4 linked regions of the Homo sapiens genome follow. The protein of the gene in region 2 interacts with the protein of the main gene of each other region in a pairwise test. Each region holds a gene or a part of one and is shown on either strand. Other genes may lie near its edges. The genes, in order: BIRC3, DZIP3, UBR3 and UBE2R2.

Region 1 (7,967 bases), on a different chromosome or scaffold from region 2:
CTTTGTTCCATATAGTTATCCATTTTGAACCTGGAGAAGACCATTCAGAAGATGCAATCATGATGAATACTCCTGTGATTAATGCTGCCGTGGAAATGGGCTTTAGTAGAAGCCTGGTAAAACAGACAGTTCAGAGAAAAATCCTAGCAACTGGAGAGAATTATAGACTAGTCAATGATCTTGTGTTAGACTTACTCAATGCAGAAGATGAAATAAGGGAAGAGGAGAGAGAAAGAGCAACTGAGGAAAAAGAATCAAGTATGTAGATTTATTAATACAGTCTATTTTCATAAGGATTTGATATCAGTCTATATGTTATGAAAAATATACTCATCTAGCATATCTGAAAATATACTCAATCCAGTCAGGTTTTTTTCATGTTTAGTATTCTGAATTCAAATGCTGAAAAATTTATTCATATTCAAATATATTTGAGTTGCTCATAAGTCAAAAATGTATGATGTACAAAAGTATTTTTCATGTTTTTCCTTAATTCATATTTTTTTCTCTGGATAGCTGACGTTGTGTCCAATTATGCATTCATGGCACATTTTTTTTTTCTTAACGCTTTGAAAATGGAATCCTTGTTGCATCATGGCACATTTTTAATCCCAGGCTAGTTGCTCACTCCCCTTTGGAGTAAATCAGGGTGGGATCAGGGACAATTATTAATTTTTTTTTGAGACAGTCTTACTCTGTCACCCATGCTGGAGTGCAGTGGCATGATCTCAACTCACTGCAACTTCTGCCTCCTGGGTTCAAGCAATTCTCGTGCCTCCTTCCCTTAGCTGGGATTACAGGCACCTGCCACCATGCCAGGCTAATTTTTGTATTTTTAGTAGAGAAGGGATTTCTCCATGTTGGCCACACTGGTCTCAAACTCCTGACCTCAAGTGATCCGCCCGCCTCGGCCTCCCAAAGTGCTGGGATTACAGGCATGAGCCACCGTGCCTGGCTGGATGGTTATTAATTTTAATGTTAGCATAAAAGCATGTCTTAGCCTGTGACTATACATTAATACACAAATTACTATTAAGTCCCCTACCTGTCCACACAAGAACTGAGTCTTCCAGAGCATCCGTCGATTATTTAGGCAAGTCCTAGTATACTGTTTCACAATCTCTTAGGACAAGTTGTTCATGTCCTTCCATACTAAACGTATCCACTATGTTCTCTATTGCCCTTCACAAAAACTCTTCTGGGCACATACATTCTCATCTGGCTGTTTTGACTGCTATCATCATTCTGTCCTAGACAAAAAGAAATGCTGATCTCTCCTTTCCCAAGCATGGACCAGACCTATAAGTCCCTTCAACACAGCTGAAAACAGACTGCAACTTTTAACAAGCTCTTACTGGAGACTTAAGGAAAACGGAAGGGAATTATATCACAAATGTTGATTTACAGCTGCAACTAGCTGTGACCTCTCTTAGTGCCCCCGGGCTCATCCTCATAAATCTCCCCTGCCTAGCTTCTGGTTCATCTCTGTGTAGCTTTGGCAAGTTTACACAAGTCACTAGGAATGTCCCAATAATGTTTTCCTTTATCAAAATTCAGGCCCCCCCAATATTCATAAAGCTCAGAAGGAGAATAAAGATTTCTCCTTATCCTTGTGCAAGGCCATCTGGGATCTATTTCTTCACAGGATGATTGACAGTCAGATTGTCCACTTCATTTAGGGATAAATCCAACCCTGCCCATGAAGATGGATTTGTTCTCTGACCCAACCCAGACAAACCTATCAGACCATAGTGATATAGCATCATACATTCACCAAAGTGTGAATTACTCAGTCTATAAACCACTAGTGTAGCAGCAATACAGTCACGGTTAACCTTTGCCCAGCCTCATCAAATTCTCTTTTCTCTGTGAAGATTAGGCAAGCATGTCCTTCCTGTAGCCTTCTTAGTGGTAGCCATTTGTCATCAGCCAACAATTGCTCAAAGAAGAGAACACTTATCTCCACAACTGTTGAGAGACCCCATAAAATCTAAAACTATCCACTTATAAAATATTTATATTTCTTTCAAAGACAATCAGAAAAGTCTCCAGAAATGACTTCAAGTCAACAATATATAATAATTTACATTGTGAAAAAGAGCCCTTAGCGTTTCTGCCTCACCATTATATATATATCTCTACTACCTAGTATCGTGCCTGCATATAGTCTGTGTTGTGAGTGAGTGAATGAAAACACATTTAGGTTAATGATTACGTTATAGTTTCCCAAGAATAGTAGGGATATAAATAAAGAGGTAATTTAAGATTTTTTTTTTCCCAGAATAAAATAATAATATGGCTGAGTGTGGTGGCTCACACCTGTAATCACAGCACTTTGGGAGGCTGAGGCAGGCAGATCGCTTAAGCCCAGGAGTTCAAGACCAGGCTGGGCAACATAGCAAAACCCTGTCTGTATAAACAAATATAAAAATTAGCAGGGTGTGGTGGCATGTGTCTGTAGTCCCAGCTCTACTCAGGAGGCTGAGGTGGGAGGACCACTTGAGCCCAGGGAGGTTGAGGCTGCAATGAGCTATGATCATATGCCACTGCATTCCAGCCTGGGCAACAGAGTGAGACACTCTCTAAAAGAAAAAAAAAAAAGAAAGAAAGAAAAGCAAAAACAAAATTAATAATATGCTTCAAAGGCAACTACTCAGGAGGCTCAGGTACAAAAATAGCTTGAACCTGGGAGGCAGAGGTTGCAGTGAGCTGAGATCGCACCGCTGCACTCCAGCCTGGGTGACAGAGCAAGACTCTGTTTTAAAAATGAATAAATAAATAATAAAAGAAATTTTATGGAAGAATGATACTTTAAGAAAAAATTGTTTTAATTCAGGCTGAATGTGGTGACTCATGCCTGTAATCCTAACACCTTGGGAGGCTGAGGCAGGTGGATTGCTTGAGCCCAGGAGTTTGAGACCAGACTGGACAACGTGGCGAGACCCCATCACTACAAAAAATTTTTAAAACAAAGTATTTGTGATGGTGTATGCCTGGTAATCCCAGCTACTCAAGTCTTCTGAACTTGCAAACCAGAATATAGTCTACAACTTTGAAATGAGACTTTTTCTCAGTTACTAGCAATTAAATTTTAGAAATCTTAAGAACTTCAGAGAATGCATTATATTAGGTTACGTATAATTACAAAAATAAATCTTAGATTGAAAAACTAGTATACTTCAACACCAAGTTTGTATTTTTATTTTCTAATATATCCCTACTTTGCTAATAGAAATAATTTAACAAAATATATTAAGTTCTAAGTCTTCTACCCCTCTCACCATTACTTTTCATTCCTACTCTTTAAATTATAGAACTAAGGTTTGATTGTTCATTTGTTCAACAGATATTTATGGAGCATTAACTTTGTGCCAGACACTATTCTAGCTCCTGACCCTTTTCTCATTTATTCTCAGAGCTTCCATTATTTTCAAAATATGTCTTTAGCCTTGTCTTTTTGACTAAGCATCATCTTTATTTTCTGGTTGTTGTTTTTGATTTTTGCTGTTTTCTTTTTTCCATTTTTTATTCTTTCTTAAATGGTTCTTTTTATGAGTCCTATCACTTGACAAAGTCAGTGTATCTAAAATCTAACAATCCTCTCTCCCAAAACAATTCTTCAGATAGCTCAGCCTCTGTCATTAGTTATTTTTTAGAAACAGCTTTATGGATTATGGTAAGCTATATGAAAATTAATAAACTTAGATTCATAAGTTATATTCCAAAGAGATAATAAAACTGCAGTTTTAAAATATAAAATGTTTTACCAATGGATACAAAATCTAGGTCTTGAAGGAGAATTAGATGATATCTTGTAGGACGAGAAGGTAGTCGTTGACAAATAGGGTTTATTATTCAAAATGCTGTTACTGCCTTTCCCTGCTTACTATAAAATATTTAGGTAATGGCAATATGTCTAATTTCTGGAAATAATTAAAATTTCAACTTAAAATGGAATTTTAAAGAAATTTTATGGGCCGGACATAATGGCTCACACTTGTAATCCCAGCACTTTTGGAGGCCGGAGTGGGCGGATCACTCGAGGCCAGGAGTTCGAGACCAGGCTGGCCAACATGGTGAAACCTCATCTCTACTAAAACTACAAAAAATTAGCTGGATGTAGTGGCACATGCCTGTAATCCCAACTACTCAGGAGGCTCAGGCACAAAAATAGCTTTAACCTGGGAGGCAGAGGTTGCAGTGAGCTGAGATCGCACCACTGCACTCCAGCCTGGGCGACAGAGCAAGACTCTGTTTTAAAAATGAATAAATAAATAATAAAAGAAATTTTATGGAAGAATGACACTTTAAGAAAAAATTGTTTTAATTCTCTTGATTTTGTCTTTCCCCAATTTGACTAGATTGAATTGAAACGTCAATTTTAATGGGTTCTAAGTTCCATTTGGTTAAAGGCTTAGCAGTATTGCCAAATGATTGAAAGCACAGTACATGACACCAGACTACCTCAGTTTGATTTTTGCTAGTTGTGGTGTCCTTCGGCAACTTAATTGCCTCACTGCAGCTTCATTTTCTCATTTGTTAAATGAGGCTATTAGGACCTACCTCAAAGAGCTGTTGTGAAGATGAAATGAATCAATACATGTAAAGTTCTTAACACAGTGCTCACTAAATGTTAGTCCTTACTATAAGTAGCATTATTATTATTATTATTATATTTTTTTAAGACAGGGTATTGCTATGTTGCCCAGTCTGGTCTCTGACTCCAGGGCTCAAGTGATCCTCCTACCTCAGCCTCCCAAGTAGCTGGTGCTACAGGCATGTGCCACTGCACCCTGGATTATAATTATAATAACATTATTATTAAGCAAAGGAGATGAGACACCCCTAAACCTAGCAATCAACATCAATGCCTTACTGATTACGAATTAAAGATAGTTTTTATCCTGCTATATATATAGGACTGGAAGGAAGTTTGTGAGCAGAGTTTGAACATGTTTATGCTTGTTTTCTTTTTTATAAAGATGATTTATTATTAATCCGGAAGAATAGAATGGCACTTTTTCAACATTTGACTTGTGTAATTCCAATCCTGGATAGTCTACTAACTGCCGGAATTATTAATGAACAAGAACATGATGTTATTAAACAGAAGACACAGACGTCTTTACAAGCAAGAGAACTGATTGATACGATTTTAGTAAAAGGAAATATTGCAGCCACTGTATTCAGAAACTCTCTGCAAGAAGCTGAAGCTGTGTTATATGAGCATTTATTTGGTGAGTGATAGAAAATTATTTTTAAAAATTTTCTAAGTCAATTGAAAATACGCTCTTATTAATAATTTATGACTACTGAAAATAATTCAGGCTGAATGTGGTGACTCATGCCTGTAATCCTAACACCTTGGGAGGCTGAGGCAGGTGGATTGCTTGAGCCCAGGAGTTTGAGACCAGACTGGACAACGTGGCGAGACCCCATCACTACAAAAAATTTTTAAAACAAATTATTTGTGATGGTGTATGCCTGGTAATCCCAGCTACTCAAGAGGATGAGGTGGGAGGATGGCTTAAGCCTGAGAGATAGAGGCTCCCATGAGCTGTGATTGTGCCACTGCACTCCAGCTTGGGTGACAGACTCTGTCTCAAAAAAAAATCAATCTAATTTATAGATATTAGTTACATAAAAAGATTAAAGACTTCTGTTGCCTTGAAATGAGTATTTGGCTATAGTCTAAAGTGTTCATTTTTAAAATAGATTCCATAGCTAAATATTAACCTTATTTGTCATAGTAATGCTTTTTCTTTTTCTCCCTTAGTGCAACAGGACATAAAATATATTCCCACAGAAGATGTTTCAGGTAATAGTACTAATATTTTAAATCAATAGAGAACATTGTCTTTATTTTCTTAGTTTTTCACTGAAGAAGCAAACTGCCTTTTATTAAAAATTCTTTCCTCTTTCTAGATCTACCAGTGGAAGAACAATTGCGGAGACTACAAGAAGAAAGAACATGTAAAGTGTGTATGGACAAAGAAGTGTCCATAGTGTTTATTCCTTGTGGTCATCTAGTAGTATGCAAAGATTGTGCTCCTTCTTTAAGAAAGTGTCCTATTTGTAGGAGTACAATCAAGGGTACAGTTCGTACATTTCTTTCATGAAGAAGAACCAAAACATCGTCTAAACTTTAGAATTAATTTATTAAATGTATTATAACTTTAACTTTTATCCTAATTTGGTTTCCTTAAAATTTTTATTTATTTACAACTCAAAAAACATTGTTTTGTGTAACATATTTATATATGTATCTAAACCATATGAACATATATTTTTTAGAAACTAAGAGAATGATAGGCTTTTGTTCTTATGAACGAAAAAGAGGTAGCACTACAAACACAATATTCAATCAAAATTTCAGCATTATTGAAATTGTAAGTGAAGTAAAACTTAAGATATTTGAGTTAACCTTTAAGAATTTTAAATATTTTGGCATTGTACTAATACCGGGAACATGAAGCCAGGTGTGGTGGTATGTGCCTGTAGTCCCAGGCTGAGGCAAGAGAATTACTTGAGCCCAGGAGTTTGAATCCATCCTGGGCAGCATACTGAGACCCTGCCTTTAAAAACAAACAGAACAAAAACAAAACACCAGGGACACATTTCTCTGTCTTTTTTGATCAGTGTCCTATACATCGAAGGTGTGCATATATGTTGAATGACATTTTAGGGACATGGTGTTTTTATAAAGAATTCTGTGAGAAAAAATTTAATAAAGCAACAAAAATTACTCTTATTCTTCATTGCTTTATTTCAATGACATTGGATAGTTTAGTCACTCCCAGACTCTTTCCATACCTTCTTAAAGCCTCTCAAATATTGAACTACAGTTTATACTCCTTCCCATAAGATGCTTCTTCATTGACACTTGTAGAACACGGGGTCAACACATCATAAAATCTATTATGGAATGCCTGAGACAAGAATCAAACAGTCCCTTTAGTAAGTTTGTTTATTCACTTCTCTATTGATTCATTCAAGAAGTCTCATGCCAGCCCCACCTATTGGAAGAAGGTCTGAGTTTTATTCTTATCTCTTTGGTATTAATTCTGAAACTTAGAAAGTACACTGGTTAGCAATGCTTGGGACCAACAGGTTGTTCTGGTAAATAAATCTGTTTCATATTGTCAGTGCAACAAAATGTCCCCCTCTGCATTATGTTATTGGTACTCAACACGTCCGAGTCATAACTCTGTCCTTTGCTTCTTATAGAGGTATTAGGTCTTCAAGAGCAGAAGTAAGACTGTAATAGGGAATACTCAGGGGAAGGCAGGCAAAGGCTAGTCATCTAAACCAGTTCTAGATGTCTGTATAGGGGCAGATGGCTCTGTAAGGGCAGAAGGGAAAGACCCCTTCATAAGGGTCACAGCTGACAATCCTATAACAAAAGACAGGTTAACAAGAGAAAAACTTAACAAATTTATTTAATCACAGATTTACATCACCGGGGAGCCTTCGTAATGAAGATCCAAAATTACAGGGGAAACTGTGCATTTTTATGCTTAGGTTTGATAATGAATGGACAGCCCTGAAGAATAGTGATTGGAAAAAAAGGATATGATCTAATGGGAATAGACACAGGTTGGGGACCCAGCAAGGCCTGTCTGTTCAGATTATTCTTGGTCTCTGTGCAGCATTCCTTCCTCCTGGATATAGGGCAGGGCCTGTATGGGATGGGGATATTATAACCTGCTATCAAGCAAGGTAGGTCAGAGAATTTATTTATGGCCAGCTCTTACATAGTTAGGTGAGGAAAGATTAGAGTACTATCTTTAAGATGTAAGTCTGGCATTGTGGAAAGATGGTTCCAGTTTCTATGACCTACCTTGGGGAAGAGGAATTCAAGTTTCTGTGGCTTGCCTTCAGGGAGAATGAGGCTGAGACAGGAGGGCAGGATAACATCAGAGAAAAACTTTGCTTCTGAGGCCTTCACTTTGGGTTTTCTGAGCCCC
Region 2 (7,967 bases):
TTAGATTACAGTAGATGTTCTATCATGTATTTCCTCTATTTCTATCAAAACATTTACTAACGTTTATTACACTTTCTTGGCTGTCTTCTCCATTTGAGTGTAACCTCCATGAGGGCAAGAACTTTATCTTGTTTTCTAGTATGTTCCTAGCACATAGCATAATATCTGGCACATAGCTAGGCCACAATAAATACAAAGTAGAGATTCTGGATTCCATTATTCCCCAATGGGCAATGTTACTTTTATTTTGACAGGCCACTAATTTGGCTAGATATGAACTTTGAACACTTTCTTGGGTGGTGGATCCAGTCTCAGTCCAGATCTTTTGGCCTTAGTTGAGCTGCTTTTAGTCTGTTCTACATATGTGGTTCAGTGTTCAGTCAGAGACGTTGTGGGAAAGAATTTGGGGATCTCTTTTCTGATTACTTCCACTTATAGGATTCCCCCATTCTCTTAGTAGTCATGGTTCCATTTCAGTTTTCTGGTTTCTTCAGCCAAAGAGACCTTTTCTCTGTAGCGATGTCACCTTTCTCATTCCTAATGTTGGCAATTTGTGTCTTTTTTTTTTTGATCATTCTGGATAGAAGTCTATCAATTTTGTTGATCTTTTCAAAGAATCAGCTTTTAATTTTATTGATTTTTCTATAATATTTTTGTTTTAAATTTCATTGATGTTTGTTCTTTGTAATTTCCTTACTTTTGTTTGCTTTAGGTTTAATTTGCTTTGATTTTTTTTTAAGGTGAAAGTTTTGATCATTGATTCGAGACCTTTGTTCTTTATAAACTGATTTTACATTAAGCATTGCTTTAGCTGCCCCATATGTTTTGATGTGTAGAAATTTATTATTAATATTTTCAGTGTATTTTAAATGTTTTCTAGTTTTGTGTGTGTGTGTATGTTTTAACCATGGGCTCTTTAGGAGTATTTGTTTAATTGCCAAATGTTTGGGAATATTTCAGCTCTCTTTCCAGATATTCACTTTTAGTTTAATTCCTTTGCAATAATTTATTTTATGATCATACTACTGTATATCTTGGTGAATGTTCTACTTGGATTTGTAAATAATGTGTCTTCTGATCTTGAATGAAATAGTCTGTACATTAGATGAAATTAGTTTACAGCTCTGTTTCAGCATTCTATGTCATTTTTGATTATTTACTTTTTCTATCAGTTACTCAGGGAATGTTGAAGTATACTATTCATTTTTTTTTTGTCTACTGTCTAATTGTATATCTAGAAACTCTTATTAAATGCTACACACACATCTAGAATTGTTACCTTTTTTTTTTTTTTTTTGACAATTTGACTCCTTTATTCTTATTTAACATCCTTTTTTTTTTTTTTTTGAGACGGAGTCTCGCCCTGTCACCCAGGTTGGAGTGCAGTGGCACGATCTCGGCTCACTGCAATCTCCACCTCCCAGGTTCAAGTGATTCTCCTGCCTCAGCCTCCTGAGTAGCTGAGACTACAGGTGCACACCACCACACCCAGCTAATTTTTGTATTTTTAGTAGAGACGGGGTTTCACCACATTGGCTAGGATGGTCTTCATCTTCTGACCTCGTGATCCACCCTCTTCGGCCTCCCAAAGTGCTGGGATTACAGGCATGAGCCACCATGCTCGGCCTTAACATCTCTTTTTAACCCTGATAATATTCTTGCCTTAAGTGTTTTTTGTCTGATATTAATATAGCTACTCCAGCTTTCTTTTGATTAGTGTTTGCATGGTATATCCTTTTGCATCCATTTACTTCAACCTATGTATTTCTTTGTAGGTGGCATAGGTCTTTGTTGTTTTATATATACAATATGACAATCTCTGCTTTTAAATTGTTTTTTTTTTATTCCATTTGTATTTTCTTTACTAATTTATATGGTTGGAAATCTACTGTCTTCCTTGTTGTTTTTAGTTTTCCCTATCTGTCTTTATTGTTTATTTTCTGGTTTGGTTTATTAGTTTTACCCTTTTTTAGTGGTTGCTTGAGGACTTACAATACATATTTTTAACTTGTCAAAGTTTATTTTAAAATAATTATACCACAGCATGTATAGTGTAAGAACCTTGCAATAATAGATTTCCATTTCTTCCCTCTTTTGTGCTATTGTTTTCATATGTTTTACTTCTACTTACTTTATAAATTACATAATATATTGTTACTTATAAGTGTAGTTTAATTTTTTCTGTTTTGAACATTATATATGGAAACATTTGTTTTATGCATTTTAAAATCATATTTAGTGTGATTCCATTCTTACTATTATAGTTGTAGTGTTTTCATTTTTATTGCTCTAATTTTATATTATTGCTTCACTAATTTAATTATTCTACCATTAACAGATGTTTATTTCTAGGTCCTGGCTATAACAATAGTTTTGCAGTGAACACTCTTGTACATGTCGCTAGGTCAATATGAGCAGAAAATTTTCCAGAATATATACCTAAAAGTAGAATTGCTAGGCCACCTGTGTATATCTATAACTTTACTAGCTTTTGCCAAATTGTTTTCCAGAGTGGTTTTACAAATGTACACTCCCCACCAACAGTATGGGAGATACCTTTTACTCAGTATCTTCCCCAATAACTTCATATTGTCAGAGTTTTACATTTTTTCAATGTAATGTGCAACTAACAGTGTTATAGTGGTACTGGAGATAGAATCAGTTAACAATAACAACCACCACCAAAATCCCTTTCCTCATTAAGCTTACATTGTAGCGTTGTTGTCCAATATTTTTTTGTTTTGTTTTCCGTGGTTCATTTCAAAGCCAAGCCATCTGTTTAACGGCAGCATTTACCTAGTGCTTAGTCTAGTTAATACATTTTGCTACTTTATTTTTTATTTTTCTAATTATTTGTATTGATGTTCTACTAGCATCTTTATTGTTTTTAATCAGTAGGTGTTAAATGAGTTGGGGTTTCTTGGAATAGTTATTGCCAAAAATATTATATGGTGAAGAGAGGGCCAGGGAGGACTTCCAGATTTGCTATTTTTTTGTTTGCTTGCTTGCTTTTTTTGTCTTACAATGCAAAGCTTTCTTTCCTTTTTTTTCTGCTACCACACAGCCTTTTTGCAAGGAAGTTTGTAATGTGATAGTTTTAGTATGAAATCTGGCAATACTGCTTACTTGATAATTCCAATGAAAGTGACAGTGTAGGGTTTTCATTGTTGGTGAGCTCTATTTGTTCATTATTTTTTCTCCTTCTTGAATTATTTCTAGGAGAAGATGAAAATACTCACTTAGCCATGCTCATACTAGAAATCTTGACTGACTTTGGTATTATTTTATTTCCACTATAACTTAATTTTTTTCCTTTTGCAGTTATAGAAAGTTGATATCTCTGAAAATAACTGATACTGATATAAGACCGAAGATCAGTTTAAAATTTAATACAAAAGGTATTATTTTATTTTTATATGCCTTCTGTTGAAAAGTATGTTAAAATTTTTGACTTCTCTGTCAACTTTCATGCCATTAACAACCACGTCTTTACTGTGTTTGTCATTCACTGAGCTTGGGTTTATACCAGCAAGCAGCGCTTGGTGTAGGCTGGAAATCACAGACAGGAAGATCAGCACATCTATGGATCTCACATTACCTTGACATCCTATAGAGAGGCATGCTAGGTCTGGTGCATAGCTGTGACTATACCGTGGGATTGTGTTCCAGCAGAGGTTTTCTACCAACTGTTCCTTCCCTTGCTGCATTCCTTCTTAATAGAGCAAGCATTAGAGTACCCTTACATGAAAGGAATGAACATTTTGAGTTTGAGGCCAAGTTTTGAGGCTAAGTAATCTAAACTAAGCTGCCAGCTTCTTAGGAGTGTGCTAGGAAATGTCCTGCCCAGAACCTGGAGGCCTTAATTAAGGGACCCTGGGCCCATAGAAGAATAGTTTGGTGGCAGTCCAGCCAACTTTTTATTTGGTAACCCAAAGAAAGCTCCCTGTGTCATTAGCTTTTTAACTTGCCTCCACAATGTATATCAAGTATTTCAAGCAAAAACGTTAATTTAATAAATCTCTTGAAACATAGAATCTTGAAGGATAAAATAATAAGGCTGCATTTTGTGACAAACACATATTTTGATATCCATATAACACCAAATGCCATTATATACTAAATTATTAGTACTTTCTAATTCACTTCAGCCGACTTTTCTCCTTTGAAAGCACTGTTAAAACAGGAAAATACCAAATAGTTCAGTTTCATGCCTTATTCCATGTTATTGATGAAATACCTACTTATCTTTTTTTGAGGGGGTGAGAAGATGAGGTTTATTAGATCACAGTTTCTCAAGCATTATACATATATTTGAAATATCCGGCAATTTTGTTAAAAGGCAGATTTCAGTAGGTCTAGAGTGGGGCCTGAGACTGTGCTTTCCTAACAGGCTTTCAGGTGGATGCTTGATGCTGCTGGTCTCTGGGCTACCCTTTGAGTAGCAAGGAGCTAGATCTTTTGGCATTTCTTGATATAGATCTGAGCTATCTAGTATAGCAGTCCCTAGCTGTATGTGGCTACTTAAATTTAAATTAATTAAAATTAAATTTAAAATTCAGTTCCTTAGTCACCCAAACCGCATTTCCAATGCTCAGTGAGTATTAGTGCAAATATAAAACATTTTATCACATGACGTTCCATTGGGCAGTGCTGATTAGGATAAAGTATAATTGTTTAAGTAAAGTATAGTTAGACATTGACAATTAGCATTCTTGGCAAATTTCAGAATTTTTAAAGACCTAATACTGTGATGCCATGTTGTTGCTAAAGGTCATTTACTTGAACAAAACCTTGGATGACTGAAAGACTTCTGTGGTGATTAGTCTTTGTTATTACTTTTGCTTGGGAACATGTTGTTTTTGTTTAGGTTTTTTGACAGGCAGAAAGCAGCATGCTAATTGAGCACTGGCTGTGGCAAAGCACTGTACTATCCTTCATTCTTTTGGAATAGTTTTTATCCTACAGGAGCTTAGGATACAATGTGAGAGACCAAATAGAAAATGAGCATTAATGTGGAATGTCTTGACTTCTCAAAATTTATTTTCAGATGAAATGCCTATCTTCAAGCTTGATTATAATTATTTCTATCATCTGCTTCATATAATTATTATTTCTGGTACTGACATTGTTCGACAAATATTTGATGAGGCTATGCCACCTCCTCTTTTGAAAAAAGAGCTTCTTATACACAAGAATGTGCTGGAATCCTACTACAACCATCTTTGGACCAATCATCCTTTGGGTGGATCATGGCATCTGCTTTATCCTCCTAACAAGGAGTTACCGCAATCCAAACAGTTTGACTTATGCCTCCTGTTAGCTCTTATAAAACATTTAAATGTGTTCCCTGCACCCAAAAAAGGATGGAATATGGAACCGCCATCTTCTGACATCTCTAAATCTGCAGACATCCTGAGACTGTGCAAATACAGGGATATCCTCCTTAGTGAGATTTTGATGAATGGTCTCACTGAGTCACAGTTCAATTCAATTTGGAAAAAAGTTTCAGATATTCTTCTGCGCCTTGGGATGATGCAAGAGGATATTGACAAAGTGAAGGAGAATCCCATTGAGAATATCTCCCTTGATTACCATCAGCTATCTGTCTACCTAGGCATACCAGTACCAGAAATCATACAGAGGATGTTATCCTGCTATCAACAAGGTACTAAATGATTATTTACTTCAGCCAATAAACTTCCATTGATTGAATGTCTGCTCTGTGCCAGGCACAGTGCAAAGGGCAAGAGATTCAGTGAGCTCATGGTTTTGGGAAAATGGACTCATCAGGAAGGTAATAGAAATTATAGTGCTAGAGATGTTTCCAGAATACCATGGGAAATCCTAGGCTAAAGAAGTCCAAAAAAGCTTTCTGGAGAGTATCATAGTTAAAGAACTATTAATGGTGTGCAGAAGTTAGCCAGGTGAAGCAGACTGAGAAGAATGTTTCAGAGGGAAACAAAAATAAAGGTATAGAAACATAAAAATATACTGCAGGCAACTAAAAAATGTTGGCTTCATTGAGATTAAAGTAGGGGAGAGTTCATAGAGTACATTCAAGAGGATTTTTTTGTCACATTAAGGAGTCTGCATTTTTCAGAAAGAAATTGTTGAAGACTTTTGAGTACAGTTTTATCACTTTAAGTGGAGTTTTATTCTCCAAAATTAATAAAGTTTAAAACCATGACATGTAAGTACTGTGTGGTTTCAAAGATGTTCGTTTAGACACAGTGTGGATGTATGTTTCTTCTACTTTCTAGCAGAATCTTGTTTAGTTTACAATTTTAGCAGCTATTCATTGGCTGTAGATAATTTTAAAAATCAGGTAACATTCATGCAAGTGTTTGTATTGGCCACTCCCAAACTTGTCTATTGATACGGAAAAGACTTCAGACCTCCTTTCCCACATCTCAGGATACCTTCTCAGCTATTCTTTTGGAAAGCAGAGTTCAAGGCATGACAACATCTCTGAAACCCTGCTGTGCTATTCAGGATGACTTCCTGGTCTCAAGTTATTTACAGCCTAATGAACAACTGATAACCACACTGATGCTATATAAACATACAACTGTAAAAGTTTCTAGTGAACTGGTCCAGATTTTCTTCAGAGATAATTGATGTGCCCAATTTCAGTCCTGGTATTTACTAAGGCTCTGGAATACCTTTGTTTTCTTGCATAATCTAAGAATGAAAGAGGAGGACACTGAGTTTGATATATAAGAAAGTCAGGCAAGAATTTTTGACTTATAAATTAGGGTTTTAAAAAATACATTTACTCTATTAGGATTTTAAATAATTCATGAGAATAGAGTATTTGAGAAAGAGTTTTGAGCACCCATTCAATTCAAAGCATTTTAAGCAGTTCTTACTCAAGTACACTGAAGAGCTTATTGGTCAAGTCCCTTTACTAGAGGCTTTCTTACCATCTTATATTTCTTTCCTCAGCTATTCTAGTTGCTTTTTATTTGGATATCTGATAATTTGATTAACATCCATCATCCCACTAAATCTCCATGAAGATTGTCTTTTTTTTTCTTCACCATTCAATCTCTAGAGCTTAACACAGCCTGATGTACATTGTAGGTGCTCAATAAATATTAATGGGCAAGGAGAGCAAGTGATGATCAGATAAATCAGATTGCTAAAAATAGGTCCCAACTTTCAGTGGAGGTTTGCTGTGTAATTAACTATTATTTCATGGCCTTAGATGGTAAACATAAATATTCGTTGCTTGGTTTAAAGTGCTTGTGTTCTAGGCTTTATCTGTGATACCACATTTTTGTTTACTTTTTTTTCTCTAATCATGGGTTTATAACCTTTATGTGATAATCTAAAGATTGTGCCTTGTCTAAACTGGATTGATGAGCAAAGCTGGTTATTTTTCCAGTTACTTACAGAATAAATTGGTGCAATATAAAAATATTCTGCCTTAATCCTAGCCAGACATTCATTTGTTGCGTTTGCAATTGTACATCTAAAATTTTTCTTTATGTATTATAGGAATTGCTCTACAGTCAATAACAGGCAGTCAGCGTAAGTATATTTAGAAATAAAATGTGTAAATGACTTTTTAACAAGGGATACCTATGAAATTTTTATTTGTTCAGATAAACTAAATGATAAACTATAATTGTGAAGAACTTGGGCCAGGCGCAGTGGCTCACGCCTATAATCCCTGTACTTTGGGAGGCTGAGGCAGGTGGATCACAAGGTCAGGAGATCGAGACCATCTTGGCCAACATGGTGAAACCCCGTCTCTACTAAAAATACAAAAATTAGCCAGGTGTGGTGGCGGGTGCCTGTAGTCCCAGCTACTCAAGAGGCTGAGGCAGGAAAATTGCTTGAACATGGAAGGCAGAGGTTGCAGTGAGCCAAGATCACGCCACTGCATTCCAGCCTGGGCGACAGAGCGAGATTCAGTCTCAAAAAAAAAGAACTTGGAAAATGATGTGATCAAATCACCACTG
Region 3 (7,967 bases), on a different chromosome or scaffold from region 2:
GTGTTCTTCTTTTTCTATATTATTTTTCAACTTTGAAAAAAAATTAATCAAAAAATTGATAAACTATTAATCATAAAAAATACTTATTTTAGATCCTGCAACTAACAGAAAGTAAAATTTTAAAAGGATATGAGGTCCAGCAATGAACTGTGTGTCCTGTCATTCATACACAGCTGGGCTACCATCTCGGCCCTGAGAATCTCATCATCAGACATTCCTAAAATTATTAAAAACGGAATTAACAAATCTGAGTATACATAAATTATAAAGAAAAAAACTTACCACACTTTTTACTAAGCTGTTTTACCAAATATAAGATGCTTCAAATTAAAGAGTAAAGAAGCTATGCTCCAAACATAACTGCAGTTTAACTGCTGTTTGCAGTTCCCTTAAGCAAAGGATATTCTAAAAGGTATACCTACAGTACAACATATCAAGAGTTTGAAACATTGTTTACATTTATCTACATCCTTTCCTTTTTTCCCTAAGCCAGTTACTACCACAGGGAGGGGGAGAAAGGGAGGAAAACAGTTAATGCATAAGTATTAGTATCAGTGAGTTTTACCTAAATGTAAACGAAGACTCAAAAGAATCACAAGAAATGTAAGAGCGCCTTCTAACATCGACCTCTCATGCTCTGCATCAAGTACTGTATTTTGATGTTGTGATGCCATTGTCAACAAATCCACTACCTTAAATCTACAAGAAGAAATATTTGAAACATATTTTTATAAATTAAAACAAAATTAACTGGACACTTCCTAATACCTGTCTTAATAAAATTATGCCTACCTTTCAAAGACGGATGAAATAAAATAATCTGGGTCAAGTCTAGAAGCACAAACCTTTAAAAGAAAACAAAATGCTTTATTTCTCAATATTCAGTTTTCCTTCTTCTATTAATCATGTTTTTCTATACTTTTTTTTGTTTTTTGTTTTTTGTTTTTTGTTTTTGAGACAGAGTCTCACTCTCACCCAAGCTGGTGCAACCTCAGCTCACTGCAACCTCCACCTCTGCCTCCCAGGCTCAAGCAATTCTCATCCCCCAGTCTCCCGAGTAGCTGGGATTTACAGGTGTGTGCCACCACACCTGCCTAATTTTTGTATTTTTAGTAGAGACAGGGTTTCGACGTGTTGGCCAGGCTGGTCTCAAACTCCTGGCCTCAAGTGATCTGCCTGCCTTGGCCTCCCAGAGTGCTGGGATAACAGGCATGAGCCACCACGCCTGGCTATGATTTTTATTTTCTGTATATTATGATGTTTTGACATCTTGAGGGGCATTACAGACCTGAAGACAGATAGTCCCTCCCAGAGCCAGTTAATTCCTGAACATACTAAACAACTTACTTGGGAAAATGCCTGTCATGCAAGCCAACCACTGTCTTTATCTAACTCTCACACATCAACCCAGTATTTCCCCTCCCCTAAATCAACCCAGGGCCAGGTACCGCAGAGCCAGATACAGCCCCTATGCCTCAAAGCCTGCTGGAATTATTCAAATTAGCCAATCCTGCCTTGCCTTTCCTTGCCTTTCCTGCAGAAACCCCAATAAAGGCTCTGGCCTAGGCTCTCCCCTCACTCCTTTCTGCCTCTTGACCAAAATCTGGTGCTTTCCTTGTAGCCTTGTGTTGGGTGGTATGCCTCTTCTCCTGGGAAATGTAAGTAAAAAATTATTCTTTCAATGGCATTGGCCTCTCCATGTCATCACGCAGTCACCTCTATAAATTAAAATCCCTTGGGTACAAATGAGACACTTCTAAAGTATATCTGCATTATCTAGCTGGCTTACCTGTAACAGGTAAATGTCAGGATCAATCATGGAATTACAGAAATGAGACTGGACATACGTCATGGCTTGTCCTTTGATTTGCAGACCATTTCTTACCCACATATTGCTGTGGATTTCTGCAAGACTTGCCTAATAAAAGTAAATTGGACAAAGAATAAATTATCTAAATGCAATCTTTACAAAATATTATAAATAACCATTTCAAAATATTTAATGATGTGATCATAGTATAAGCCCGATATTCTGTCCAATGTTAAAGATAATCAGTTGAAATATACATTTTTACATTTTTTTTAACAATAATTATGTTTTTACATAGCCACTTTTTTAGAGTTTAAACAAATGAGTTGGTTTTCCATGTTGGCCTCTGGATACATTTATGATGATTTTCACTGACATCTTTCATAAGAAATCAATGCTTATGTTTCACTCTATTTCTCCCTCAAGAAAACCCTAAGTAACAACAACAACAATCCTAATATACATGTTTAAAGAAAGACACTAGAATAAGCATAAAATAAAACCAACTGTTCAAAGTCAATGAATACATTCTACATCTTTAATTCACCCTAACTCAATCTTAAATCTATACTGCTAATTTTCCAAATATTGGAGGTTAGAATAAATGTTCTCACTACATCAGTATTTAATTCTTCATGTATTTATGTCCAGTGTCAACTAAAACTAGGCAGTCATCATTTTTTTTGTTTTTTTTGAAACAGAATCTCACTCTGTCGCCAGACTGGAGTGCAGTGGCGCGATCTTGGCCCACTGCAACCTCTGTCTCCCAGGTTCAAGCAATTCTTCTTGCCTCAGCCTCCCGAGTAGCTGGGACTACAGGTGCACGCCACCATGCCCAGCTAATTTTTGTATATTCAGTAGAGACAAGGTTTCACCATGTTGGCCAGGATGGTCTCGATTTCTTGACCTCGTGATCTGCCCGCCTTGGCCTCCCAAAGTGCTGGAATTACAGGCGTGAGCCACCACACCTGGCTTCAAGCAGTCATAATTTTATGTTTCCTAACACCCAGAGTTCAAGTTCAATATTATAATAATTAACAAATCTAAAATTGCCAGGAAAAACAAATGGAAGTGCAAGTCCCTCTAATGTATATAAAAAGCTGGCCTGTCAAATTACATTGCTGGTATTAAAAGAAATCACAGTGCTTATATAAGCTAATTCTTCTCTCCTCTTTCTCCTCTCACTATACAGATAGGGAAACTGAGAATCAAGGAGGTGAATTACCTTAAACCTTGCGGAAAATAAAACAGTGGTAGCACCAAGGCTAGAATCTTTTGGATCTCCTGACTCCCAAAACAGTGCTATATAGTATGTTAAATACCACCCCATAAGCAAATATCATGAAAAGAATTCCTGGAAAAAGTAAAACTAAAAAGTAAATCTCATAAAATGAAAAATACCTAAACATAATCTAGCAAAAATACAATAACAACTTTTTAAAAAAAGTTTTCAAACATCTCAGCTATAATAACAATGAAAGGCATATAAATAAAGGAAGAATCACTTAAACAAGGAATCCACTTCAAAACTTTTTAAATGCCTGAATACATACTTGAATTTGGAGTGGGTGAATCATTAGTTTCATTAACATTTCCTGATCTGGTAAAACAGAATCCAAATCTAGTTCTTGACATTTCACAGCCTAAAAATTACAATAAAAAAGTTACTAATTCAATTCTTATTTCTGAAAATTAAAAAAAAAAGAACAGAATTGTTTAATGACAGTCTTACCTTACTCAAAAACATAGCATAGTAACGATGTAGTGGCAGATGAAAAGTGACTTGGTTAGGTGCTGGCTGGAATAAACAAACAAAATGCACAAGTCAAAGACTATTTTATAGAAATTTTAAGATGGTTGTAAAATGTTTAAACCATACTCTCACCTGGATTTATTCCTATACTTTTAGTTCAAAACTTAACATTTTAGAAGATGCAGATTCCAAAATCACTATAGATAAAATTTTTCCATTTTAAACACTTAAGTATAAGTTTCTTGAAGGCAGAAATTGTATTCTACTCAACTTTGAATCCTCTGAAGCATCCAGTACAGATTAATATTTCCTAAATTCAATTCAGCTAAAGCAAATAATTATTATTAAAACAAGGGATGGAATGGATTTCCAGCTACAGTAGACCATTTGGGACTCTTCAAACGCATGTATACCAAACATCATGACAGTAATAACAGTCACATATAACATTCATTGAACACTTCCTATGTGCCAGTCACCATGCTAAGCACTTTATTCACATTACCACATTTAATCCTCAGAAGAATGCTATGGGGTAGGAGCTACTAATATTCTCATTCTACAAGTAGCAAAATTCAAACTTAGAAAACTTAACTAACTTCCTAAAGTTCAAAAGTAGTGAACTGGGGAGCTAATCTGGACTCCACTGTCATATTCAAAACTGTAAGAAGACTCTGACCACATCCCTAAACAGAGGTATAAATGCAGGGCATCGTTAGATTCCTTCACCAGTTAGATAAGATGCTTCCAAACAGTACCAAACGCACCAGCCTCCATAACAAAACTTCATAAAAAATATGTGAATGACCTTAGGCATTCCTGTAAATATTACAAAAACTGTATTTTAAATCTGTGAATCCCATGGATCACAAAATCACTACAGGGCAAAAATACACCACAGCTGTCCTTCTTAAACAAATGAGTTAAGAACTGAAAAGGTATTGTTTGTTTTTAATGCTTTTTAAGTTCTTATTAAATATTCTCTTGTTAAAAATGTTTATCCCGGACATTCAGATAATTATGCTAATGTATATAATTTACATTATAGAGGTTATAAGGAGTCTAAATATGTCACCATCCCTGAAATAATTATTTTTTTCAAAACCAGTAAGATAATAATATCCTCTTCAATATGTAAAGGCTATAAAAATTTGTTCTAATAAATAAAAGTTTGCCCTCCATAAAAAGAAAGGAAAGTCTAACAATGTTCTGTAACATGAATAAACCTTCGGGATATTATGCTAAGTAAAATAAGCCAGTCACAAAAAGACAGTAACTATATGATTCCACCTATATGAGGTTCTTAGAGCAGCCAAATTCGTAGAGATACAAAGTAGAATGGTGGTTGCCAGAAGCTGGGGGAAGAGGAAATGGGGAGTAGCTATTTAATGAGTATAGTTTCAATTTTATGAGATAAAAAAGTTATGGAGATTGGCTGCACGACAATACAAATACACATAACACTACTGAACTATACACTTAAAAATGATTAAGATAGTGAATTTTATGTTTTCTGTGTATTTTACCACAATTAAAAATAAAATTTTAAAAAGTTTGCCCTCCATTACCATAATCGCCTTAGTAACATATTCTACACTAACTAGCTAAGTCAGAATCTCCCTCAATTTCCTTTGAGGCACTAAGCACAGTGGATAAGTGCAGACTCTTTTTTTTTTTTTTTTTTTAAATAGACAGGGTCTCACTCTGTGGCCCAGGGTGGAGTATGGTGGCACGATCACAGTTCGCTGCAACCTCCACCTCCCGGGCTCAAGTCATCCTCCCTCCTCGGCCCCCTGAGCAGCTGGGACTACAGACACACACCACCATGCCTGGCTAATTTCTGTTTTTGGTAGAGACAGGGTTTTTGCCATGTTGCCCAGACTGCTCTCGAACTCCTGGGCTCATGCAATCTGCCCGCCTCAGCCTCCCAAAGGATTGGAATTATAGACGTGAACCACCAGGCCCAGCCTAGGTGCAGACCCTTTTTTTGAGTCTCGCACTGTCCCCCAGACTGGAGTACGGTGGCGCGATCTCAGCTCACTGCAACCTCTGCCTCCCGGGTTCAAGCAATTCTCCTGCCTCAGCCTCCTGAGTAGCTGGGACTACAGGCATGTATTACCACACCGGCTAATTTTTGTATTTTTAGTAGAGACAGGGTTTCACCATGTTGCCCAGGCTGGTCTCAAACACCTGACCTCAAGTGATCCACCTGCCTCGGCCTCCCAAAGTGCTGGGACCAAAGGCGTGAACCACTGTGCCTGCTTCCTAAGTGCAGAATCCTGGTTCTACCACCCAGCTGTAAAACTATGGGCAAGTTACCTCTCTGTGCCTAAGTTGTCTGATCCTTAAAGTAGGAATAATAAAGAGTTTAGTAGCTGCGAGAAATAAGTAAAACAGCACAGTACCCAGTACATATTGCTATTAACTAGTAAGCCATGGACCCTATTTTATCTTTCAGGGCTTTAGCATATCCTATGTTCACATTCTCCATAACGTTAAAGTCCATATTCCTTCCTTGTCTAATGTCACAGACTGGCTACTTGATAAGCACTTCTTCTATTCCTATATATACTGAGAGTCCTTGGATTCCATTCTTCACTCTATAGTCTTCTATGTGAATTTATCCAGATTCACAGCTTCAGCTGCTAACTCTACCCAGATGAGTTCCAAATCTCAGTGGAAATCTCACTCCTGAACTCCAAATCTTACATTCAGGTGTCTACTGAACAGCAATACTTAATATTCCATAGGACCACAAATACAGCGTGTCCAAACCAAACTCAGTATCTTTGCCATAAAACTCAATCCTCCTCAATATTTCTTCTCCAGATTCCCAGTAATTTAAATATGAAATGTAGACTTCCTCCTTCTCACAAGCCTCCTATATTTGATGAGGTATCAAATTATGTTTACTTATTTTTTAAGTATCTCTTAAATCCACTTTCTTCTTTCTGTCTACACTGCACCTAACTAACCTTAGCTCAGGCCCTCAACACCTAGTGCCTAGATTTTAGTGATAACCCCTACTTCTACCATTATCCTGCATAAAACACCTTTTGTGGTGTCTGCCTAGCTCACAACCTTCCCATCTTCTCAGAATGTGTCTCCCTCTCCCACTCTCTGCCACCTCAACCACACACAGAGATTGGGGCCTGACAGTCAAGTTTATAGTAGCCATACTTGACTGGAGGCAGGGCAGGGGACATCTACCCCCGCTTGAGCAATGACTTTCTCTCTTAAAAAATTTGAACTAGGATTCAGAGACATTCACAGACAATCTGGGAGTATGCCTGAAATGGTAACGTTAGGCAACTATAAAAAGGCAGTATTTCACCACATAGGCAAAGCACAGGAAGGGAAGAAAAAATGAGGCACATACACTCAGGGCAAAGCAAAGGCAGGCGACAGGAGTTCCTATTCAGATTTCCAGTCCATCCCTGAGGTCCAGGTGCCCTAACCCTGAGACATCCCTATGTATTCATAATAAATTACTGCTTTTACTTTATTATTATACTTTAAGTTTTAGGGTACATGTGCACAATGTGCAGGTTTGTTACATATGTATACATGTGCCATGTTGGTGTGCTGCACCCATTAACTCTTCATTTAACATTAGGTATATCTCCTAATGCTGTCCCTCTCCCCTCCCTCCACCCCACAACAGGCCCTGGTGTGTGACGTTCCCCTTCCTGTGTCCGTGTGTTCTCATTGTTCAATTCCCACCTATGAGTGAGAACATGCGGTGTTTGGTTTTTTGTCCTTGCAATAGTTTGCTGAGAATGATGGTTTCTAGCTTCATCCATGTCCCTACAAAGGACATGAACTCATCATTTTTTATGGCTGGAATATACACATATTCCATGGCGTATATCTGCCACGTTTTCTTAATCCACTCTATCATTGTTGGACATTTGGGTTGGTTCCAAGTCTTTGCTATTGTGAATAGTGCCGCTATAAACATACGTGTGCATGTGTCTTTATAGAGGCATGATTTATAACCCTTTGGGTATATACCCAGTCATGGGATGGCTGGGTCAAATGGTATTTCTAGTTCTAGATCCCTGAGGAATCGCCACACTGACTTCCACAATGGTTGAACTAGTTTACAGTCCCACCAACAGTGTAAAAGTGTTCCTATTTCTCCACATCCTCTCCAGCACCTGTTGTTTCCTGACTTTTTAATGACTGCCATTCTAACTGGTGTGAGATGGTATCTAATTGTGGTTTTGATTTGCATTTCTCTGATGGCCAGTGATGATGAGCATTTTTTCATGTGTCTTTTGGCTGCATAAATGTCTTCTTTTGAGAAGTGTCTGTTCATATCCTTTGCCCACTTTTTGATGGGGTTGTTTGCTTTTTTCTTGTAAGTTTGTTTAAGTTCATTGTAGATTCTGGATGAACCTT
Region 4 (7,967 bases), on a different chromosome or scaffold from region 2:
AATCACTTGTGCATTACCCTTATACTAGAATCACAGATTTCCTCTGCTTTGCCTGCCAGTTAGCAGCTTGTTTCTTAGTGCTGAAAAAAATTTTTTTTTATTTTTCTTAAATGCCTTTTATGAAAACTATCAATAAAAAATTTATATCTCTATTCCCCCAAGGTCTTAAATTTAATTGTATCAGAAAAATTTTAAGGGAGGGAGAATTTGAAATCTGATTGTACTATCTTAAAAAGCAGAATACTTTTAAATACTGTAAATATGGGTATTCATAGCTGATCCTTTTTTCCTGTTTCTAGGACTATCCTATTAAGTGTAATCTCACTGCTTAATGAGCCCAACACCTTCTCCCCAGCCAATGTCGATGCTTCAGTTATGTTCAGGAAATGGAGAGACAGTAAAGGAAAAGACAAAGAATATGCTGAAATTATTAGGTAAGGTTTTTTTTTTTATTACCTCAAGTTATACAAAACCAAAATATATTCTGGAACCAAGGGTTTAAATCAAACTTAAATATCCTGTCCATTCCAGGATAATTTTCCTCTATTAGATTTATAGTGTGGGAAGAGAAGATTTCTGCCTGAGCCTAAAGAACTTTGCTGTTTACCGAGAGAACAGCCACTAGAAGATAAGGCAGTAGCAGACCTGATTTTCTAGGAACCAGAACTTCTAGGTTCTGGCCAGGCATGGTGGCTCATGCCTGTAATCCCAGCACTTTGGGAGGCTGAGGCAGGCGGATCACCTGAGGTCAGGAGTTCGAGACCGGCTGGCCAACATGGTGAAACCCTGTCTCTACTAAAAATACAAAAATTAGCCAGGTGTGGTGGTGCACACCTGTCATCCCAGCTACTCAGGAGGCTGAGGCAGGAGAATTGCTTGAACCCGGGAGTTGAATGTTGCAGTGAGCTGAGATCACACCACTGCACTCCAGCCTGGGCGACAGTGCGAGACTCCATCTCAAAAAAAAAAAAAAATTGAATAAATAAAGCCTTCCAGTTTATTGGCATTCCTGACCATAGCAGCAAGGATTGTTTGGAAATCCTCATTATCAGCAACACTAATGTATGGTATAACAGAGCCCTAGAATAAGATTCAGGGGACTTGGAATCTACTCATGGGACCATTTATCAGATAATTTTTGGGGTCTTTTACTTTCTCCTCTGTATAAAATGGAAAAAAGCTTAACCTTTAATCTCTTAGGACATCAGGTTCTTATAATAGTACCCAAGAAATTTGCAATAAATACAAACCCTACACTTCCCCTACCCTCCACCTCTTTTTTATTTGTTTCTAATTAATTTTTTTTTTCTTTTTGAGATGGAGTCTTACTCTGTCATCCAGGCCGGAGTGCAGTGGTGTGATCTCGGCTCACTGCAGCCTCTATCTCCTGGGTTCAAGCAATTCTCCTGCCTCAGCCTCCCGAGTAGCTGGGATTATAGGCGCCTACCACCATGCCCAGCTAATTTTTGGATTTTTAGTAGTGACAGGGTTTCACCATGTTGGCCAAGCTAGTCTCGAACTCCTGACCTCATGATCCACCCGCCTTGGCCTCCCAAAGTGCTGGAATTACAGGCGTGAGCCACTGCACTCAGCCTCCTCCACCTCTTTTTAAAGAAACAGACATGGTCTTACTCTGTTGCCTGGGCTGGAGTGCAATGGTGTGATTACATGGTAACTTCAAATTCCCGGGCTCAGGCAGTCCTCCCACCTGGGCCTCCTGAGTAACTAAGACTATAGGCATGCACCACCACACCCAGCTAATTTCTATTATTATTTTTGTAGAGATGAGGTCTTGCTGTGTTGCCCAGCCTGGTCTTGAACTCTTGGCCTCAAGTGATCCTCCTGCCTCAGCCTCCCAAAGCTCTGGGATTATAGGTGTGAGCCACCGTGCCTGGCCTCCACCCCCCTTGATATTACATTTTTATTTCTTAAAATAGAGACCCCAAATACAGTTACAGCTTCCTCTGTGCATAGGAGTTGACTAAGCATTGGCATTTATACAAATAAGAATAAAATCTAGTTGGCTTGAGACCATGTGATATGAAAAAAGTTAAAACAATGCTGGGAAAGGACATGAGGTGACTGCTGAGTAATATAAAATCAGCAGTTCTAAGTTTTCTGCCCATTGGGATCACTTTTAAACTGTCCCTAAACAATAGCTGTCTTTTATGGGATTACAAGGACAGAGTTTGGGCATCTGTGTGTGTATATATATCTCACCTAGGTGACTGATGTGTACCAAACATTGAAGATAATTAGTAGAAATATTAAGATCCTACAGAAATTTAGAGGAGTGGGAGTGTACTAAGGATTGAAAGATCAGAAAGCTTAGGTATACATATTCCCAAGGTACTTCTATATATTTCTTAATTTGTTTAAGGGTCCGTTTATCTCATTCTATCTATTCCTTAATGACCTAGTACAGTACCTGACACTAAGCAACAGCTTTGTGTTAGGTACTCATTAAGGCATAGCCTGTCTCCTTAGGGAGCTCACTTTATTAGCATTTGAAAACAAATGACCATGTAGTATTATACCTATAGAAGCCTAAACAAGATACACTGGGAGAAATATATAATGTAATAGATTTCCTAGCAGAGATAATTCCTTATAACCAATACTTTTTCAGGTGAAAAAAGGGAAAATACCCATGTTTGCTAAAATACAGGAGTATAACAGCATGACATGTTAAGGGGATTACAAATGCTTGAGTGTAAATTCTGATGTGGGAAATATTAGAAAATTAAGCAAGAGAGGCACCAGGGTCTTCAAAGACATTGAAGTCATGATAAGAGTATGGTTCTTAATGTAAGAAGTGATGGGGTACCACTTAAATATTTTTGGGAGGGAAGAGGTGATGCTATTTGAGTTCTGATAAAAGAATTGGCTGCCTGGTGTGGTAGCTCACACCTGTAATCCCAACATTTTGAGGCGGGTGGATCACCTGAGGTCAAGAGTTCGAGACCAACCTGGCCAACATGGTGAAATCCCATCTCTACCAAAAAATATAAAAGTTAGTTGGGCATAGTGGCACACACCTGTAATCCCAGCTACTCGGGAGGCTGAAGGCAAGAGAATTGCTTGAACCCGGGAGGCAGAGGTTGCAGTGAGCTGAGATCGCGCCACTGCACTCCAGCCTGGGAAACAAAGCAAGACACCGTCTCAAAAGAAAAAAAAAAAAAAGACAGTCAGCTGGGCACAGTGGCTCACGCCTGTAATCCCAGGACTTTGGGAGGCCGAGGCGGGCAGATTGCTTGAGCCCAGGAGTTTGAGACAAGCCTGGGCAACATGGCAAAATACCATCTCTACAAAAAAATTAGCCAGGAGAGGTGGCTTATACCTGTAATCCCAGCTACTTGGGAGTCTGAGGTGGGAGGATTGCTTGAGCTCTGGAGCCAGAGGTTGCAATGAGCTGAGATTGCGTCACTGTGCTCTAGCCTGGGTGACAGTGGGAGACCTTGTCTCAAAAAAAAAAAAAAAATCAAATAGTTGGCCAGGGGACCAACATGGACTAAACTGAGGTAGTAGTAATGGGGATGAGGGGACAGATATAAAAATATTTAAGCTGTAAAGCAATAGGTCTTTGGAGTGAGATTTATTATTTTAAGAAGCAATGCTCATTTATTCAGAGAAGTAAAATGGGAGAAACTGTCCATAGAGGTAGAAAATGCATATGCAGTCTACCTCTGCATATGGAACATTAGGACAGAGGCTTCCAAAAGGCATTTGTTTATATAAGCCAAGAGCTGTCAGCATAAAGGGAGTGGTGGTTAAAATTATGGGAACAGAGATGATGTCCCAGGGAGAGTGCTGAGAGTGTGGAGATTGAAGCCCAGAAGCCTCAGGACCATCAATATTCAAAGCAAGGCAACAGAAGAAAAGCTTCAAGCACAACTAAGAGATTGACATTAGGAAGATCAGGAAGAGTGGTCTAGTCTTGATGACTCAAATTTTTATAATTGTTGAAGGAAACAATTTATTGTTTGTTCATTCATACAATCAGTATTTATTGCACACCTCTTATGTGCCAGGCTATGTGCTAGGCACTGACTGGGGAAATGGGACTAAGAAAGACATTTACGCTCACATTCAAATATGTGGAGACAGAAGAGTGAGCAAGCAAAAAATACTAGATAGTGCTAAGTAGGATAATGTGAAAGAATGACTAGATGGCTGCTTTAAATTGGGTTGTCAGGCCAGGCCTTCTCTAAGGTGATATTTAAGCCTTAATATCTGAGGCCGTGATTCTGAGTGACAGGAAGGAGCCAGGCATGTGTGGGGCAGGGGAAGAGCAACTGGTCCAGACAGAAAAATCAACAAGGTGTGTCCGAGATGCCAAAAAAAGACCAGGGTGAATGTGTTGAAGGGCTGGAGAAAATACAAGAGTGGGTCATGTGGCCGGGTGCAGTGGCTCATGCCTGTAATCCCAACACTTTGGGAAGCCGAGGTGGGCAGATCATGAGGCCAGGAGTTCGAGACCAGCCTGGCCAACATGGTGAAACCCCATCTCTACTAAAAATACAAAATTTAGCCCGGTGGGGTGGCGGGAGCCTGTAATCTCAGCTACTTGGGAGGCTGAGGCAGGAGAATTGCTTGAACCTGGGAGATGGAGGTTGCAGTGGGCCGAGATCACGCCGCTGCACTCCAGCCTGGGTGACAGAGCAAGACTCCGTCTTGGGTGGGGAAGAGTGGGTCGTGCAAGACACTGGAATCTGGCATAGGCATTTGAATTTTACTGTCAGTGAAAATTAAGAGGATAATTAAATTAAGAATTGTTGGGGCACTTGAGTTTGGTGGTGAGGTGACTAGGCCAAAACCCTAGCCAATCCCCTAAGCACCCCACCCCACATTAAACCAGAGTGGGACGTTTTATTCACATATGCAACCTTTATGATCTAGCCCCAAGAAACTAGGAGGCGTATTAGCCCTTCTATTATCTATTCTTATTCTGGCAGTTATCCCTGTGCTTCACACATGCAAACAACAAAGCATGACATTCCGCCCACTAAGTCAATACCTGTTCTGATTCTTAAGTCGCCGACCTATTGGCCCTTACATGAATCGGAGGACAGCCAGTTGACGAGGTGATTCTGGCTATAATTGATCCACTGCTTTAAACTCCCTTGATATTAACAGTGTATTTCCCCTCCTAAAAAGTCAAAGTTTACTTCAAAATTGTACCCAGTGGGTTGAAAGCATTTGGTGTAGTACAGGGTATCTGTCAGATGCTTTCAGGCAGGTACTGAAGTTTGGAGAGCTGAGTCATAAGTAATATTGATTATTTAAGGCCAATTATAAATCTGTCTTAAAAAAAGACTTACCGTAAACCATTTCTGTGTCAACCTCCCTTCAGGAAACAAGTTTCAGCCACTAAGGCCGAAGCAGAAAAGGATGGAGTGAAGGTCCCCACAACCCTGGCGGAATACTGCATCAAAACTAAAGTGCCTTCCAATGACAACAGCTCAGATTTGCTTTACGACGACTTGTATGATGACGACATTGATGATGAAGATGAGGAGGAGGAAGATGCCGACTGTTATGATGATGATGATTCTGGGAATGAGGAGTCGTGACGTGCTCCTTCAGTGCCCCTGTACTGCCCTGCCATCTCAGGCCAAAGGGAGGGGAGCAAGTGGGGACCTGGCCATGGCCCCTCAGCAAAAACCTATTCACAGCGGGTGGGGAAACACACACAGCTCCTGCTGACTCCCCTTATGGATCTCAGTTTGCTCCTTTTTATGGACCTTTAATGGAGAGAGAGTAACCCTCCACAGAATGTCTGAATTCTTGCATTCTTTACCCTTCCATCACTATATTGATTCTTTTTTTAAAAAATATGAACCCAAACTCCCGCCTCACTTCGTCTCTACAGAATGTTCACAGCAAAACACGTTTGGTCTGTTTTTAGATTCTTGAAGAATTCAATAGTCTTTCAAGATGTTTAATGTGTTTAAAGCTGGGAACCTGTTGGGAGTTCACAAGTGCTGCATATACTGGGTAGCAAAAGAAAATGGAAAAAAACCCACAAAACAAACTTTAAAAAAAAAAAAAAACAAATTTGCCAAGGTTTAGCTGCTCATTTACATTAGTGTGTGTGCATTCGTTCAGCCCCATGGTGGTGAATTCTGTTTCTTTCCTTTCCTAAGGCTGGGACATGGTGGGCATCAGGGACTTTGTGCTAAGCCTGATGAAATGTGCTCCTTCAATCTCCATGAAACCATCGTAACATGGAGGCCTCAGCTGCTCTGAGGAGAGAAATCAGACTTTGTTTTTTGAAATCGATTGGGATCGAAAGCCTGAAATAAATATTCATACTTTCCATAGAACTGAGCACTTGGTTGCTATTTATTTTAAAGGCAGGGTTATTTCCCCCCAGGGAGTGGGGCAAGCGGGGAAGTTGGGATGAGTGCGTGTGGGAGCAAAGAGTTAAAAATCACTATGCTAAGTTTGGTTGATGCTACTGGGGGGAAAAAGTTGAAACTACTGGTGACCACTGTTGGGAGAGGAAACATCTGTTTTATAGATTTAGCATGGCCTTCCCATCAAAAATACACTCGTACCATGACGTTTTGTTTTTGTTTTTTAAGTAGCCACTTTTAATTACTCAGTATTAATCCTAGGTGCATGTGTTAAGATTTCGGTTTTCATCGAGCTGCTTATACTGATAGTGAAAAACTTGGATGTGTGTGAGACGAGTTACCGCCTTCTTCATTGGATGTGATCTGAACTTTTTTTCTCCTTTCAACATACTTAGGCTGTGGAGTGCAAGCAGAATTATGCATAGAAATTGTGGCAGGGCTGAGGGAGTTGACTGCAGGCAGTTTTTAGGCCAGATAAGGCTAGATCTTCCTGCAATGCACTTGCTGCAGCTTTGATTTTCCAGATCTCAATCGTGTTGCTTCAATCAATATTGAGATCCAGCAGCCTTCACCATCCAGGAGACTTCAGAACTTGAAGGTAATTTTTGGTTGTTATGGGGGTGCACCAGATCATAGGAGGGCATTATTTGGAGGAAACCGCTATAATGTAAAATCAGATTTCAGAAGGAAAATGCAGCAAGGACTGACTGTAGTCCTATTTCAGACCCCTGGGCACTAGTGTCAACTCCTCCTTTGGCTCGTAACTCAGAAAGAACCAAAGGGCAGATTAGGGACGGGGCAGGAGGGATCCTAGGATGGCCAGAGTAGGTGACGCTTACTTCCTTAGCTCCTCCTTCCATTCTGATCTCAGGGTTTTCACTCTTCAAACTCCCAAACACATGACTTCTTCCCAGCAGCCCTTCCCGGCCTCTAAAGTTTGGTCCCAGCAGCCCTTCCCAGCCTCTAAAGTTTGGTCTGGTATGAAATGGGACTGTTTAACAAGCAAGGCTCTTAGGGGACACTGTTGAGCCTGGTCCCAGAATCTGTGATCTCCACAGGGCCAGGGTTGCTACTTGCACCCAGAATCTAGTGATTTTAGTCAGATCCATGGAACAGAGCAGCTTCGTAATACATTGTCAAGTTACCTGATTACAAACTCTCATAGATGTTGGAACTACCTTTTTACTCCCCATACTTTGTAAGTAATGCTTCCAGATTAACCTGCAAATCTTGTGGAGCCAAAGCCTCTCACAGTGCTGATTTACCTCCCCCAAAATGCCCCCAAACCCCCATGCAAGTTTACAGCCAGTAGCTTGGTCTTATTCTCTTGGAGCCCTAAAATTAAGCCTTTCATTCCCCTTTGCTAAAGCATCTCACTCCCAGGGCAGCCCCAGCACCCTGGCATTGCGGGAGGTGCTCTGCTGCACAGCTGTTCCATCAGGCCCTATTGGCCTCTGTTAGACATTGACTCAGGGAGCCGGAGCGCCAAGTGGAGGTTGTACCTTTCAGCCCTTTGGGGTGTTAAAAGTGTCAAGGGCTGGGTTTGCCTCTGATGAGTACAATCAGTTCCAGAAGACTGGGTAAGTCTCTTGCTAGCAGGTGGACATT

Evidence for each region.
Region 1: the proteins of DZIP3 (region 2) and BIRC3 interact in a two-hybrid assay, tested with the Homo sapiens proteins (one large-scale study listed by BioGRID and IntAct).
Region 3: the proteins of DZIP3 (region 2) and UBR3 interact in a two-hybrid assay, tested with the Homo sapiens proteins (one large-scale study listed by BioGRID and IntAct).
Region 4: the proteins of DZIP3 (region 2) and UBE2R2 interact in a two-hybrid assay, tested with the Homo sapiens proteins (one large-scale study listed by BioGRID and IntAct).

Annotation. Positions count from the first base shown.
Region 1 is NC_000011.10:102,330,984-102,338,950, forward strand, and holds part of BIRC3 (baculoviral IAP repeat-containing protein 3), read left to right. Parts: intron 1-15; coding exon 16-258; intron 259-4,982; coding exon 4,983-5,237; intron 5,238-5,776; coding exon 5,777-5,818; intron 5,819-5,925; coding exon 5,926-6,119; 3' UTR 6,120-7,967. UniProt on the Homo sapiens protein: Multi-functional protein which regulates not only caspases and apoptosis, but also modulates inflammatory signaling and immunity, mitogenic kinase signaling and cell proliferation, as well as cell invasion and metastasis.
Region 2 is NC_000003.12:108,639,117-108,647,083, forward strand, and holds part of DZIP3 (E3 ubiquitin-protein ligase DZIP3), read left to right. Parts: intron 1-3,321; coding exon 3,322-3,398; intron 3,399-5,047; coding exon 5,048-5,665; intron 5,666-7,500; coding exon 7,501-7,533; intron 7,534-7,967. UniProt on the Homo sapiens protein: E3 Ubiquitin ligase proteins mediate ubiquitination and subsequent proteasomal degradation of target proteins.
Region 3 is NC_000002.12:169,919,570-169,927,536, reverse strand, and holds part of UBR3 (E3 ubiquitin-protein ligase UBR3), read right to left. Parts: intron 3,609-7,967; coding exon 3,543-3,608; intron 3,454-3,542; coding exon 3,364-3,453; intron 1,919-3,363; coding exon 1,790-1,918; intron 846-1,789; coding exon 793-845; intron 700-792; coding exon 566-699; intron 218-565; coding exon 132-217; intron 1-131. UniProt on the Homo sapiens protein: E3 ubiquitin-protein ligase which is a component of the N-end rule pathway. Does not bind to proteins bearing specific N-terminal residues that are destabilizing according to the N-end rule, leading to their ubiquitination and subsequent degradation.
Region 4 is NC_000009.12:33,911,665-33,919,631, forward strand, and holds part of UBE2R2 (ubiquitin-conjugating enzyme E2 R2), read left to right. Parts: intron 1-299; coding exon 300-434; intron 435-5,353; coding exon 5,354-5,573; 3' UTR 5,574-7,967. UniProt on the Homo sapiens protein: E2 ubiquitin-conjugating enzyme that accepts ubiquitin from an E1 ubiquitin-activating protein, and catalyzes its covalent attachment to other proteins by an E3 ubiquitin-protein ligase complex.